Homo sapiens: one gene and its partner. The protein of the gene in region 2 purifies or fractionates together with the protein of the main gene of each other region. This does not show direct contact. Each region holds a gene or a part of one and is shown on either strand. Other genes may lie near its edges.

What was found. The genes of interacting proteins can lie anywhere in the genome.
Region 1: the proteins of STXBP6 (region 2) and VTI1B purify together in Homo sapiens (affinity purification with mass spectrometry; 2 studies listed by BioGRID and IntAct, with this or other methods). This does not show direct contact.

The regions. Positions count from the first base shown.
Region 1 is NC_000014.9:67,645,882-67,650,632, forward strand, and holds the end of VTI1B (vesicle transport through interaction with t-SNAREs homolog 1B), read right to left. Parts: 3' UTR 2,303-4,751; coding exon of another isoform or gene 2,166-2,302; 3' UTR 1,204-2,165; downstream 1-1,203. Other genes in the region: ARG2 (arginase-2, mitochondrial precursor), read left to right, coding at 763-857, 1,040-1,144, 2,166-2,302. UniProt on the Homo sapiens protein: V-SNARE that mediates vesicle transport pathways through interactions with t-SNAREs on the target membrane. These interactions are proposed to mediate aspects of the specificity of vesicle trafficking and to promote fusion of the lipid bilayers.
Region 2 is NC_000014.9:24,850,473-24,858,879, forward strand, and holds part of STXBP6 (syntaxin-binding protein 6), read right to left. Parts: intron 6,686-8,407; coding exon 6,555-6,685; intron 5,630-6,554; coding exon 5,464-5,629; intron 1-5,463. UniProt on the Homo sapiens protein: Forms non-fusogenic complexes with SNAP25 and STX1A and may thereby modulate the formation of functional SNARE complexes and exocytosis.

The DNA of each region.
Region 1 (4,751 bases), about 43 Mb from region 2:
GTGAAGGGTGGGTTGAGTGTGGATTACCACTCCTTCATTTGTTCATCACTATTATGGACCAGGCAGTCTGCCAGATGCTAGGGGTATAAAGACTAGACATAGTCTCTGTTCTTTGTAAGAAAGCAAGGAGGGGGTAGTAACAATAGCGACTGATATACCCACAGCCTGAGGACTTCTTGGTTAGAGGCTCCCAGGCCATACTCTCAGACACACTGATCTAGAAGACAAATAAAACCATGACCTCTGGGTAATATTTTCCTGAGCAGTTCAGAATATATGGGAGTCCATGTTAGGCACAGACTAGAATCTGTATATCCCTCCCCTCAGTGAGGGACCAAGTCAAACCAGGACACTACAAAGATTATTCATTGGGCGGAAGTCCTGTGTCGGCTGTTGGCAACTTGAGATGGCAACCAGGTTATGCTTCAAGAACCAATCTGTAAACAAGTCAGTAATGTGCAATGGGATAGAAAAGGGCTAATCAGCAGTATTCCTGCTACTAGGTAAGTTAATGAGAAACCAAGACAACCTTAGAGATTTTATTCGTCTTGAGAAAGCAATACTGTGTTCCTCAGCTGCCCTTCTGAAACATTTCCACCTTGTGTCACTTCTCCTTCCCAGATCAAGTGTGTCCTGTGTTGCTCTAAACTTACCCTGTGGGTGGCAGAAGAAAGCAGATTGCATACCCACGGACGCACATGATAATGATCTTGGTGAGAACAAGAATTCTTGATTAATCCTGTCCATTTCTCCCTTTCATAGGTACCACAACTCCCAGGATTTTCCTGGATCAAACCTTGTATCTCTTCTGCAAGTATTGTGTATATTGGTCTGAGAGACGTGGACCCTCCTGAACAGTAAGTTGATGCATTTGGCTGAAGTTTAGGGCCTGTCCTAGCCAATTATGTTCTATTTGAAAGGCTGATGCTTAACTTGGTCTATTGCAGGTCACTACAACAAACCCACCCTCTCCCCCAAATACATATTTGTTAAAAATGCTCTTTAAACTAAGGACTCCTCCCTTTATATCTCATCACAGTTTTATTTTAAAGAACTATGATATCCAGTATTTTTCCATGAGAGATATTGATCGACTTGGTATCCAGAAGGTCATGGAACGAACATTTGATCTGCTGATTGGCAAGTAAGTAACTATAACTGATGTCAGGGCAAACCCCCAATGGGCAACACACTTTTAGCCTGTTTCTTGAGGACAGCAGCTTTACTTTTAAAATACAAAGCAAAAACATACACATAATTTTAAATAGTTCAGAAAGGCAAAATTTGAAACACAGGTCATATTCTTCCTCTGGGGTTTTTGGGAGGAGGTTTCCTCTAAATCATTGCCTAGATCTTCTGTCTCATGAATTTTTCTTTATCTCCATCTTTAATGCTTATCTTCTGAGATGACAAGCATTTATTGTTTCAACTGTCCCATTCTTCCCAGCCTCACGATTGTTTCATCTGAGTTTTATATTAAGCAAATCTTGGCAGTGTAGAAAGATGGCAGATGAATACTAATCAAATGGTAATTTTAAGAGCATTTTCCCAATACCAAGTCTTTACTTCTGGGTGATTAATGTCAGAATTGTTATCTGGTAGTATGTCATTTCATAAGCTGTTAAGAAACTTAGTTGTTAGCTTCAGCCTTTGGACACTGGGGCTATAATGAAGTTAGAAATGGAAGATGTTAAAACTGCAGACCTAAAATTAGAGTTCACTTCAGCTGCTGTTACGTTCAGAGAATAAGAGCAACCATAACTTACATCAAGCCAATTTAAATTAGACTAATTTAAATTGTCTAATTAAATTGTCTCTAGATGAGAGCCCAATCTCATCTAGAAGTGAAGAAATCTCTCTATTGACAGTTATTAGTATAAGAGGTTCTAATACCCAGTGTAAGGCAGAAATATACATTGGAGTTAGTCTGTCTGAGGTATGCAGAACAAATGGCAGTATCATGAAGTGGTATGTAGGAAGTTAATATTGCCAATCTCAGTAACTTCCAAGAATAGGAAGCCTGGAAATGTATTAACAGCTTTATTAACAAAGTACTAGGACTAATAGCAACAAAATCAAGGAGTTGCAACCATAAGAAGGATGAGTGTCCAAGGACAACCAGTTAAGTATTATTTTAAGTATTATTTTATCCTCTTCCTTTTTAGGAGACAAAGACCAATCCATTTGAGTTTTGATATTGATGCATTTGACCCTACACTGGCTCCAGCCACAGGAACTCCTGTTGTCGGGGGACTAACCTATCGAGAAGGCATGTATATTGCTGAGGAAATACACAATACAGGTATGTAGCAACCAGGTCTGCAGCCTGTTAACTACATAGGTAAATATGCTAGAGTCTCTTGCCTGCAAAGGATCTTTTCTGCTATTCCACATCATTGCAGAGTTTGTTTTTGCTTAAACTTTTGTAGCTAAAAATTATATGGCCATGCTAATAAAAAGGATATAGTCCTTTAGAGTCATGCTTGGACATGGCTCTTACCAAATTACACTAAGGTAATAATGAGTAAAAAATTGTATATTTAAACAATTAAATACAAGAATAAATTGTCAAACTGATGCAGTTCTTTGAGTTATCTAAAGGCAGATTAAGATAAGAAGGCAAGATAAGATAAGAGTGCAAGGCTGTAATTTGCACTCTAAGAGATTGGTTCATTGGGAGTTGTGAATTTGGAGCTAAAGCTGATCTCTTGAAGAAATCTGCAAACTGGACAATATCTTGGGTCCTTTATGTAGGGTAGGTCTTGTACTAGAGCCTGAAAGGATTTCTAATAAGGGGGATACAGTTAGATGAGAATGGCTGATGGAAAGAGTACTAAGATGAATTCTACGTTATCAAGACTGGCTACTTTTCCAAAACTCATACTTGTTTGCAAACAGTTTCCATTTCTGTCAGAAAGCTTCTGGTTTTAAAGCTACTTCAAATGACCTTTCATTCCAAAATTTAAAGAACTACCAAATCATACTGCTTCAGTAACCATCTGATGGAACTAGGGTATAGATAGAGACCCCAGATTGAAAGGTTCAGGGCTATAGAGAACCCTTGACTAGCTGGGATAGAAACTCACATTGAGAAATGGTCTCCTTAGCGCCACAGCCTGCCAGAACCTTAGGCAGTACAAAAAGGCAGGCAGTACTGGTCTAATTCTCAGATCTGCAATCTTAGATGTTGCCAGTGGTCCTTAGGTTATTGGCCAGAGAACTTGGGGGTTCAATTCTCTGCTTTGCTTCCTAAAAACACCACTTAGAGCAGGGGTTAATAACCTCTAGCACTTATATATGGCATGGCTTGTCTCTTTGTTCCTATGCTACAATATTTTACTCCAAAAGACACTCATGGGGCTAGGCACAGTGGTTCATACCTATAATCCCAGTACTCTGGGAGGCCAAGGCAAGAGGATTACTTGACCCCAGGGGTTCAAGACCAGCGTGGGCAACATAGTGTGACCCCGTTTCTACAAAAAATAATTAGCCAGGTGTCCCAACTACTTGGGAGGTTGAGGCTGCAGTGAGCCATGATTGTGCCACTGCACTGTTATAATGCTGTCAACTAGATACATAAAGCAGTTTGCTTAATTTATAGGGTGGCAATAGTCTGGAAACATAAGTCATGTATATATTTCTAATAGTGCAAACTTTGATGACCACTTCTGGGATATGCTAAAGGTGCAGGTTTAGTCAGTGGAAATCAGAGACAAATCAGGAACACAGGTCCATGTGCAGGAAATGATGGAAATGCTACAGTAATACACCTGTTGGTTGCAGTTTGGCACTGTACACTCAACTATGCATTGCTAATAAGGGAAGATGCTGAACGGACATGATGGCATTCAGCACATCATGTACTATAGTGTAATATCAATAAACCATTAGGTACATTTGCCTGTGTTTCCAGACTTTATGGCCACCCTAAATATTCTTAGATACTTGTATTCCTGAATACTAGCTTGTTCAGATCACCCTTCATCCAGAATAACCAACTAAAAAGTTAAATTCTATAGAGAAGTGAGGCATTTAGAGGGGTGAGCATAGTAGCAGGTCTGGATAGGTTCTTCTGGTTTAAGCTTCCCTTCCACTTGCTCCAGGCCAAAGGAACACTACCGAGAACTTTGACACAAGTTCTCAAACCTTAACAGAAGGTAACTGAAGTCCAGATAAAATAATTAACATATGGCTGAATTTTCTCTTGATCAAGTACAAGACACTGGGTCAGTCTGCTGGGAGACAAAAAGATGTTGTTAGATGTGGAACCTGCCTCCAGAGCTCAGGCCTGCAGGGGTGAGAATGAAGTTTGCAGTAATAACTACATTTCAGGGCATATGGTGTGGTGCTCTAACAGATACAGATAACACATTAGAGTTCAAAAGTGGGAATGCAGTTTGGCTAGTGCAAGTGGCAGATTTCCTCTGCCTTCATACTTGATTCATTTCCAGGCAGGCATCTGGAAGGTTCCTAGTCATACTGGAGGTGGCATACATTTTGCCAACAAGCAGGATGAAAACCTCCCCCACCCAACACCAAGCCTTTTCCTTTTCCAGAACGCCTGACAATTATGCCTGTTATGTTAGTTGAACAGGGATGGTTTATTTCATTATCTTAAAAGGTTTCTTTTAATCTACTATAGCACAACAGTGTTTTAACTTAAATTCATGGCCAAGAGGATGAGGTGCAAGGGGCTTCCTAAAAATAGGTATTTTCTACTATAAAATGGACTCTTGTTTTTACTTTGGCTT
Region 2 (8,407 bases):
CTGCTTTGTGAAAAAACAATCTGCCACATTCAAATTCTGAATACAGCTAACATTGAAATAAAATTGTCTGGATTAACTGTTGCAATAAGAGAGAGCTAATTTCATCTTGCCCTTGTCTGTCTGGCAACTGCTAACCATCCTTTAACCTCCAGCTCAGCCATCCCCTTACTGTCATGGCAATGTTTCACGTCTATTTACATCTGATATGTCCAGAAAGTAAGTCAAGCTGGTGAAGGTGCCTACTGTGTGACTGGATCTCCACAGCTAGTTTAGCACATTTACATAGCGCTGAGTAAATGATTGTGGGATCACTGAAGGATGACATACAACAGGTGAAATAGTTAAGAGAGAACTGAATGAGTTAGCTAGGGTATTCGGGCTCAGAGTTCAAGTAAAAGGCTTGGATATGCTTCAGTTTATGCTTATCTTGAAGAATAAATTATTTTTTCTTGCAAATAATTTATACCTCTTAATGAAAAAGAAAATGGGTTTGCAAAGAACCTACTTTGTGGTTCTAATATAGAAATTGCCAGTATCACCAAAGATTTCTACAGTTCACAGTATTAGGCATATGAATACTAGGCCAACAGTAATCATTATAAATTGGTCAACACAAATGAAATAGCAATGTGGGAGCCATGTGGGATTTGCTCACGTTTAAAGAATACTGATGTAAGTAAAGTAACAAAGTCTTCCTTGGGACCTTGACCTAATATGGCATACCCGTTAATCTATACTGACAATCTATTTGAGGCAGACCACGTCTCTTTTTTTTTTTTTATACTTTAAGTTTTAGGGTACATGTGCACAACGTGCAGGTTAGTTACACATGTATACATGTGCCATGTTGGTGTGCTGCACCCAGTAACTCATCATTTAGCATTAGGTATATCTCCTAATGCTATCCCTCCCCCCTCCCCCAACCCCACAACAGGCCCCGGTGTGTGATGTTCCCCTTCCTATGTCCATGTGTTCTCACTGTTCAATTCCCACCTATGAGTGAGAACATGCGGTGTTTGGTTTTTTGTCCTTGCAACAGAACCATCATTCTCAACATCTGTTTGAAATGAATTAGCTGAAAGCAAGTCCCTCCTGTGGAGTCTAATAACACGTTATTAACTCCTTTGAGGCACCTTTGAAGTACAAATGTGTCATCACACGTATAACAGTATAACATCATTTCTGTTTACAATAAACACAGAGAAAATAAAAGCCACCATTTCAGAAGAAGTAAATCCAAACCATATGAACTAAAGACTGTACTTTCAGGGACCCCTGTCACTCATGTGGTCATGTCACATTTCAGCAGCCAGACCTGGCTCCCCACCTCTGCCTTCAATCTCTGTAGGTTGTTGCATAGTCCCTGGCCTTGACAAAGTCATTCAAAATTGCTGGGCCTCAGTTTTCCCAATGACAGGGTTGGTCCAGATACAGCTGTGAAAATAAATACAATTTAAAAGCTGTTGGAACCCCCAAAAACACTTTAAGCCTTGAGAGAGATATGGCTGTGATCTGAGTCATGCAGCATGTTTTGCAATTCTACTTCTTAGATTATAGCTTAACTCTCTTCCTCATTGTTTTGTTCTGTAAGTGACTAGGAGACCAGAGACCAGACCTCTACCTTCCAATCACAAATCTTTGTTAGAGATTAACTGCCTTCTTTATTGTCCTGACCTATCTCCTGACCTAACTCAGACTAGATGGTGCTCTGAACAGGGACCCCATGACAGTTACATCTGCAGTAACTGCAATGGAATGTTAAATGTACCTTTCTCAAAAGAGGAGGACCATCTGAACTAATCAGGTCATTGTGACTATGTATTAAGCCTTACATAGAAAGATGCTGAAATTCTGCTAAAATTCCCCAGGCTTTGTCTACATAAGCAATCTCACACGTCTACGCTTTGTAACACTGACTTCCATTGTTAGGAATCTGTGCTTCTTGGGTGGGCTTGTCCTCAACCTTTGCACTTAAAGTCTCTTTAATCTAGATTCTGACCCTTTTCATTATTTTAGGTTGGCATAGAGTACCTGAGAGGCCCTGTAGGCGGCTAGGGCTGCACTGTCTTCCCAGTGCTTTCATCTATTTCCTCTATTGAAGTTCTGGTGGACAAACACAAAAAACAAAAAGCAAGATGATTTTAAAGGTGCTTGATGACTCGATTGTTCTTAGGATGAAAAAAATAGCTTAAGAATTATCTTAAATATTTTCCTGGGACAAAACTAGGAAAAAAGTTAAAACTATCCATAAAGGCGGGTTTTCTCCCACCTCCCTTTTTAATACCCAGGAATGTAGTGGCTAAAATATTCCCAGCAATTCATATACAACTCCAGGGGGCACCATTCATAACAAAGACAATGTCAATGGTGTTTCCTGGAGCATGCCACTCAGTGGCTTTAAGGAGCCAATAAGTGGGCCTGCCCTGGCATCTTATCTTTACGACTTACTAGTTATATGACCCTTGGCAAGCTATTTGATCTCTCTGATTCTGTTTCCTTCTCTATAAAATGGAGTTGATAAAGCATATTTCCAAAGTCTGCTATAAAAATTAAATTAGATAACATATGTATAGAATCTGGTGTTGGGCAGCATACTAACACCAGTATTAGTTCTTTAAAATCATAAAACTATCCTATTGCATGGTATAAGAAACAATGGTATCTAGGACTTGTGGCCCATACTATAGGAAGAGACCAAAAGATACTGTGAAACTGGCAACAGATTTCATATCCTAAAGATGTGGAAGATACCCAAAAGTTAAAGAGGTCAGAATGTAGTGGCCCCAGAAGCACCTAATTTTGAAGTCTCAGAAGTGTGATAGCTGGCAGAAAAGAAGACTAATCGGCATACTAATTTATCAGGGTGTGTTGGCACAACTATTATTAAGCATAAGCAACTGTTTAAGACATGCTGCATTCACTAAGGTTATATGTGCTGCCAACAAATTACTACATGCTTAATTTAAACCTTTTTGTGCCTTCCTTAGTAATCCAGGACTTGTCAATATTTAATTGCGCTAAATCTTTGATTCTTTAGATAAGAAGCAATTAACCTACACAATAAAACTATAATTTAGGAATTACAGACTTTCAAAGTGATGGAACTGAAAGAGATTTTATATAGCATCTAGTCTAACCTCTACATGTGACACCTGGGAAAACTGAAGTCTAGAGCAGCTGAGAGACACACCTACAGTTACACAGGGCAAAGGCAATTCTGGCATTTGGTTTTATTAACTTATTCTAATTTTTTCTTACTACAGGAAACCAATATTCGGCTTGCCTAAATACACATACCAACAATTTAACACTGGACATATGTGTTCCCATCTCAACTCTGCATAATTTGGGGTTCACAAGGCAATGAAAGAAAGCTGAAGGGCTGGCTCAATGATGGACAGAAGCAGTGTGGTGGGGCTGTGTGGGAAGGTCTGAGGATATTCAGGAAGGCAAAGGAAGAACAAATTAGAGATCTATCAGTCTGGGATTTGAGTAGTGGCAATTAGGGTCTATTAAGGAACCAAATATAGAATTATTCTCTATGTCCAATACGTAGCACAGTGACTAGCATGTAGTAGGTTCTTAGTTCTCATTTATTGTATGATTGGATAATGAACTGTAATTGAATGAAGGAAAGAAAAAGCCTGTTCCTAGAGAAGAAATGAGACCTTTAGGGGAAACAGAGCAGGGGGACTGCCTAGTGCAGTCTGTTAAGGGAGGAAGAGGAAGAGTCAGCAAAGCTATCCCTAACCTTAGAATGAAGGAGGTAGCTCGTTTCCCTTGGAAGGACAGTGAGTGTGTGGCCCTTTTGCTTCCATCCACATTTCCATTCTGAGGAAGTGCAGTAGTTTCTATGGCACTTGGTCTGTTTCTGGCCACACTGCCCAGGACGGAACATGAAGAAGTGCAATGCTTGAGGGGAGTCTTTCTCCAAGAGCAACAGAAATTTCAAATCCATAATGTCACATTATTTTGAGAAGAGACTCTGTGCTTACATGCTAGCCATGCAAGCTACTGACCATATGGACATGGATGAGAAAAATGCTTCATAGCAGGAATTGAAGATTAAGAAACAAATGTGATTCTAGGCTATCAGAGCAAACTCCACCTAATGAAGAATGAGGGAAACCTGGGATTTCCTGGCCAACTTTCCATTCACTGAAAATGTGGCCCTCTGTGGTCCTAAGCCTGGTGTGCTTCAACCTTCTGCCAAGTCCGTTAAGGCTGGACTTTCAAAGCAGGAGTCATTTTAAGAGCACTGGTGGCGCAGACATGATACAGAGCTATATCTTATTATATTTTCCAAATAGGTCAGTGTTTGAAATTCCCTTTCCTTTAAACATCTATGTCTAATATTTTTCACTTTTGTACCATAGGATGTGACCCCTTGAAAAAATATACACCATTCATCACCTCTTGTATTTTCCTGGGATTAAACAGAGAAACTATAATAAAATAAGCTGCATAAATACCTAAGAAAGACCTTCCAAGGTTCTTATGATGTAAGCAACTTCCTACTTAAAAGGAATGCCAATACCTCAGTGGCTAATACCAAAGAATTGGATAATAACTTCTCTATACAACTTCTAGTAACTAATGGCAAAATGACAGTATGTGTGTCAGTTGCTAGGACAGAGTAATGGATTCTGCTGTATGTTCATATGAAACATATATACAGCCCAAGGAGAAGATGTGATGTATTTAACGTGATCTTCATTTAACATCTGATTAAGGCAAAGCTGGTGCATTTTTAAAAACAGTCTTTCAAAACCAAGAGACAGGTCAGTGAAAAGACCAATGATATAAACACTCTTCCCCAACTCACAGAGTTGTCAAGGCTTTTACATTTTTAGCACAGTATCAATTCTCTAAAAAGAAATGCCACCTAAGAAATGTGCTAAGCACCCTCTAAACATTTCTCATTATGTTGCCGATGCTGGCACTCACCCCTTTACAGTGGCTTACTGTACTCATCCTAACTCAGCTCTGTATGCCATTCAAGGAATAAACACGAGTTGCTTTTGAAAGAAAGGGGAAGCATCTGTTGGAATTTTTATATTAATATTTGTAAAACATCTTGAGAAAAAATAGAAAAAGGCAACCCAGAAAATGGTGTTCTGCAATGAAATTATAGAAAAGGTAGTAAAGAAACCAAAATAAAAGGTTTTTCTAATAAGGGAGCAGTTTTGTTCTCATCATTCAAATAATCTTAGCTAAGTGCAGATAAGAACTAGAAGGCTAATTCTAAAAAAGACCAGCTTTTGGACAAGAGTGAAAACATACCTTTGTGTCTAAATTTACCATACAATAAACTCCCTGGAATGGTTCTTATGTTGTCTAGCTCTGAGCATATTGATTCTTCTCCTGTTTTTGTCTTTAATTATGCTGCTGAACTCCTAACTTCTTAAGTAAAAGTGAGTCTAAAGAAACAGGATGACTAAAGTCACACAAATGTCCACTCACCTCCCATAATTTTGGATTGGCAGTTAATAAACTCTGGCTTCCTGTCCGTGAGGTACCTCTGGCAGGTATGGTGGAGGATCTGGAAGAAGGTGCATTTTTCTGACGCTGTGCTGGCTACCCACTGGTCAAAAGCATTTTCAAACAACAAATCAAACTCTGCCGAATCCTGGAAAAGACAATGAAATAACTACTAATCTCAATCTATAAAAACTGCTGTTTCTAGATTACTCCTGTCAAAAGATTTATAAGGGCTAAAACAAAGACTTTGATCGCAATCATAAGGCTCATCTTTATCCAAGTGTATGGAGAGTCTACATTTCTCTGTTTATGAAGCAAACCCCAAATCTTACAGTATTGATACATGTTCCTAGGAAACTAGTATCACACAAATTGAGATAGCCTAACTAAACACTGACAAATGTCAGAATTGAGACCATGTATTATCTTCCCAATTTCCTGGAAAAGGGATTCCTTTAGGTTCTCAGCAACGACCTATATTAATCTGGCCCCTAAACTTTGGTAGGAAGATTCCCTCTTGTTATTTTAGTCTATAGTAACAATTTATATTTTATTATTCTTCATTATTAGCATTTTGTGAGGTGTGCATGTGAGCAACGGGAATGTACTTTGCATAGATAACTATGCCATAAAATGTTTCTCCTATTAAAAGCAAGGGAATCACAATGCATACTGAAAGATACCATTCATTTACTTGATTTTTGGTAAATACACCTTGTCATTAGTGCCAGTAGGAGATAAATGAGGTTTTGGTAAACATGTTTTTTTTTTTCCATATTGATAACCATCGATATGATTATCTGCACTCTGAACTTCGTACTTTGCTGATCAATGTTACCGGAGGTCACATTTTTTCAATATGCATTCTGTTAGATTCCTCTATTAAACATGATGAAAAGATTTATAATTTCCCATAAGAAAGGACTCTGTATCCGAAAGTTTTAATCACATAATTGAAATAGAGAAATAGCCTTCTTAAGAATGATTCAAACCACCACTACCACTACCAAGGTCAATCAGAGAGTCATCTTGTGAAAAGAATGCCTTTGCTCAGCATTGGACAATTCACTCACCCCATTAGGATCGATACCATTAACCTGGCGAAGCTGCTCGAGCATCCACTGTGATCTCCGAACAAATGATGTGGAGCCTTCAAACTGTTTGACCTTTGTGATGGACGCCTGTGTGGGTTTCTTGTTTGTCACTGCCAAGAAAAGATCACTCAGATTAGTGCACCTGCAAGTTGGTGGTTTGTTTCCACATTCAGTGCTGTTTCTACAGGACACCTACTGTGTATATGCACAATAACAGAGAGAAGGCAGAGGGGGAAAGGAGGGAATATGAATAAATATGTGTGCCTTTGGTCAGGGGTGAACGTAAAGGAAATAGATGTTACAATCTCCACTCTGAAGCAGTTTACAATATAATTATAATTGTAAGGGCTGCTTCATTTATGTGTTTATCCATTCAAACTGAAAATGACTTAAGTGAATAACACCAAGCACCTTCAATGGAGGCTATAAGTGCACAATTACAGCTTGCAGGAAAAGAAGCATATAGTACTGACAGGCATCAGGTAAGGTTCACTGGGAAAGGCTGAATTTGAAAGGAAATGAAGGTAATTGGCTCCCCTAGAGAACTGCAAGGTATATTTCTAGTTTTATAGTCCAGTGTAAACATCTTAGGCTTCAGTGATGAGGAGTAATCCCTAACTCAAAAAATCCCCAAACTATTTGGCTCTCTAATATTGTTCAGTTTGTATCTAGTTTGCATCTAATTATGATTGAATCTGGTGTTCTGGGCACACCTCCACACCTGTAGGAAAAGGACAATTTCTTCTCTCAGCCTCAGTGAGTTCTTCCCCTAAGCCTTTCTGTGCTAAAGATGGACAGCATCACCTCTCAGACTGAAGCCAAGCATCAGGCACCAGGAGAGGCACTCTGAATATTTCTACATCTGCCTACTTTGTGACATGGAGACTCAAGGGTAGGAAGTAATTAATTGTCTTTAAAGGGATTTCCTAAAAGCTTCTCCTGAACCCTGGCTATAGGAATTAGCAAATTAAATAGAAAGGAACTACAGAAAGTAGAAATCATTATTGGCTATATTGAAGATGATCCTAATTACTGACTTGCTGAAGACTATGCATCTGTGGCATATTCTTTGTTTCGAATCACCCCACAGATTCCACACTTTCGAATAACTATGTAGATGCTCAACAGATGGCAAAAAGAATTCTGAAGGGATGAAGTACAGAAAGCACCTACTCCAATCACAGTTGGTGAGCAGGGAGACTCTACAGTTCACGCATTCCATAGCTTATTGCAGTTTCATTGTCGGGGGCCATTAAAGCAGGAGAGCAGAGACAAAGGAAAGGTGGCCACTGTCCTTAGATCTAGTGAGAACCCTACTTTCCCAGCACTGAAAACCACCTTTATGGCCTGAGTACTATCTACTCTCTCTGCTTCCAACCAAAATTTAGTGAAGATTTGTTTTTAAGTTCAAATAATGTTTTGGTTTATCACCCATTATTTCAGTTATATTTGCTAAAAACTTCTGAATATTTCATACCAATTACATTTACTTTTATGATTAAGAAGTCATCATCCCCTTAACACCCACAATCAGATGAAATTTTATAGTCTTCTATTCACAAATAGGAACAACCATTCCCTCTAATTGAATTCAGGCAGTATTACCAGTCTGCCCAGGACTCTGTCTATCCATTTAATTCGATTCATTTATTTTTTGTGTCTCCTATGACACAAATGGGAGACCTAATAGGTTTCTCTGATGGCTGTGACCTGCTCTTACGTTTTAATGTTAAAGAAAACAATACACCTGGAATACAGGCAGGTCTTAAAATGTGCTTAAAAGATTAAAAAAGGCTTTTCAATAACAGGAAAACATGGGTTCCTGTATTAGA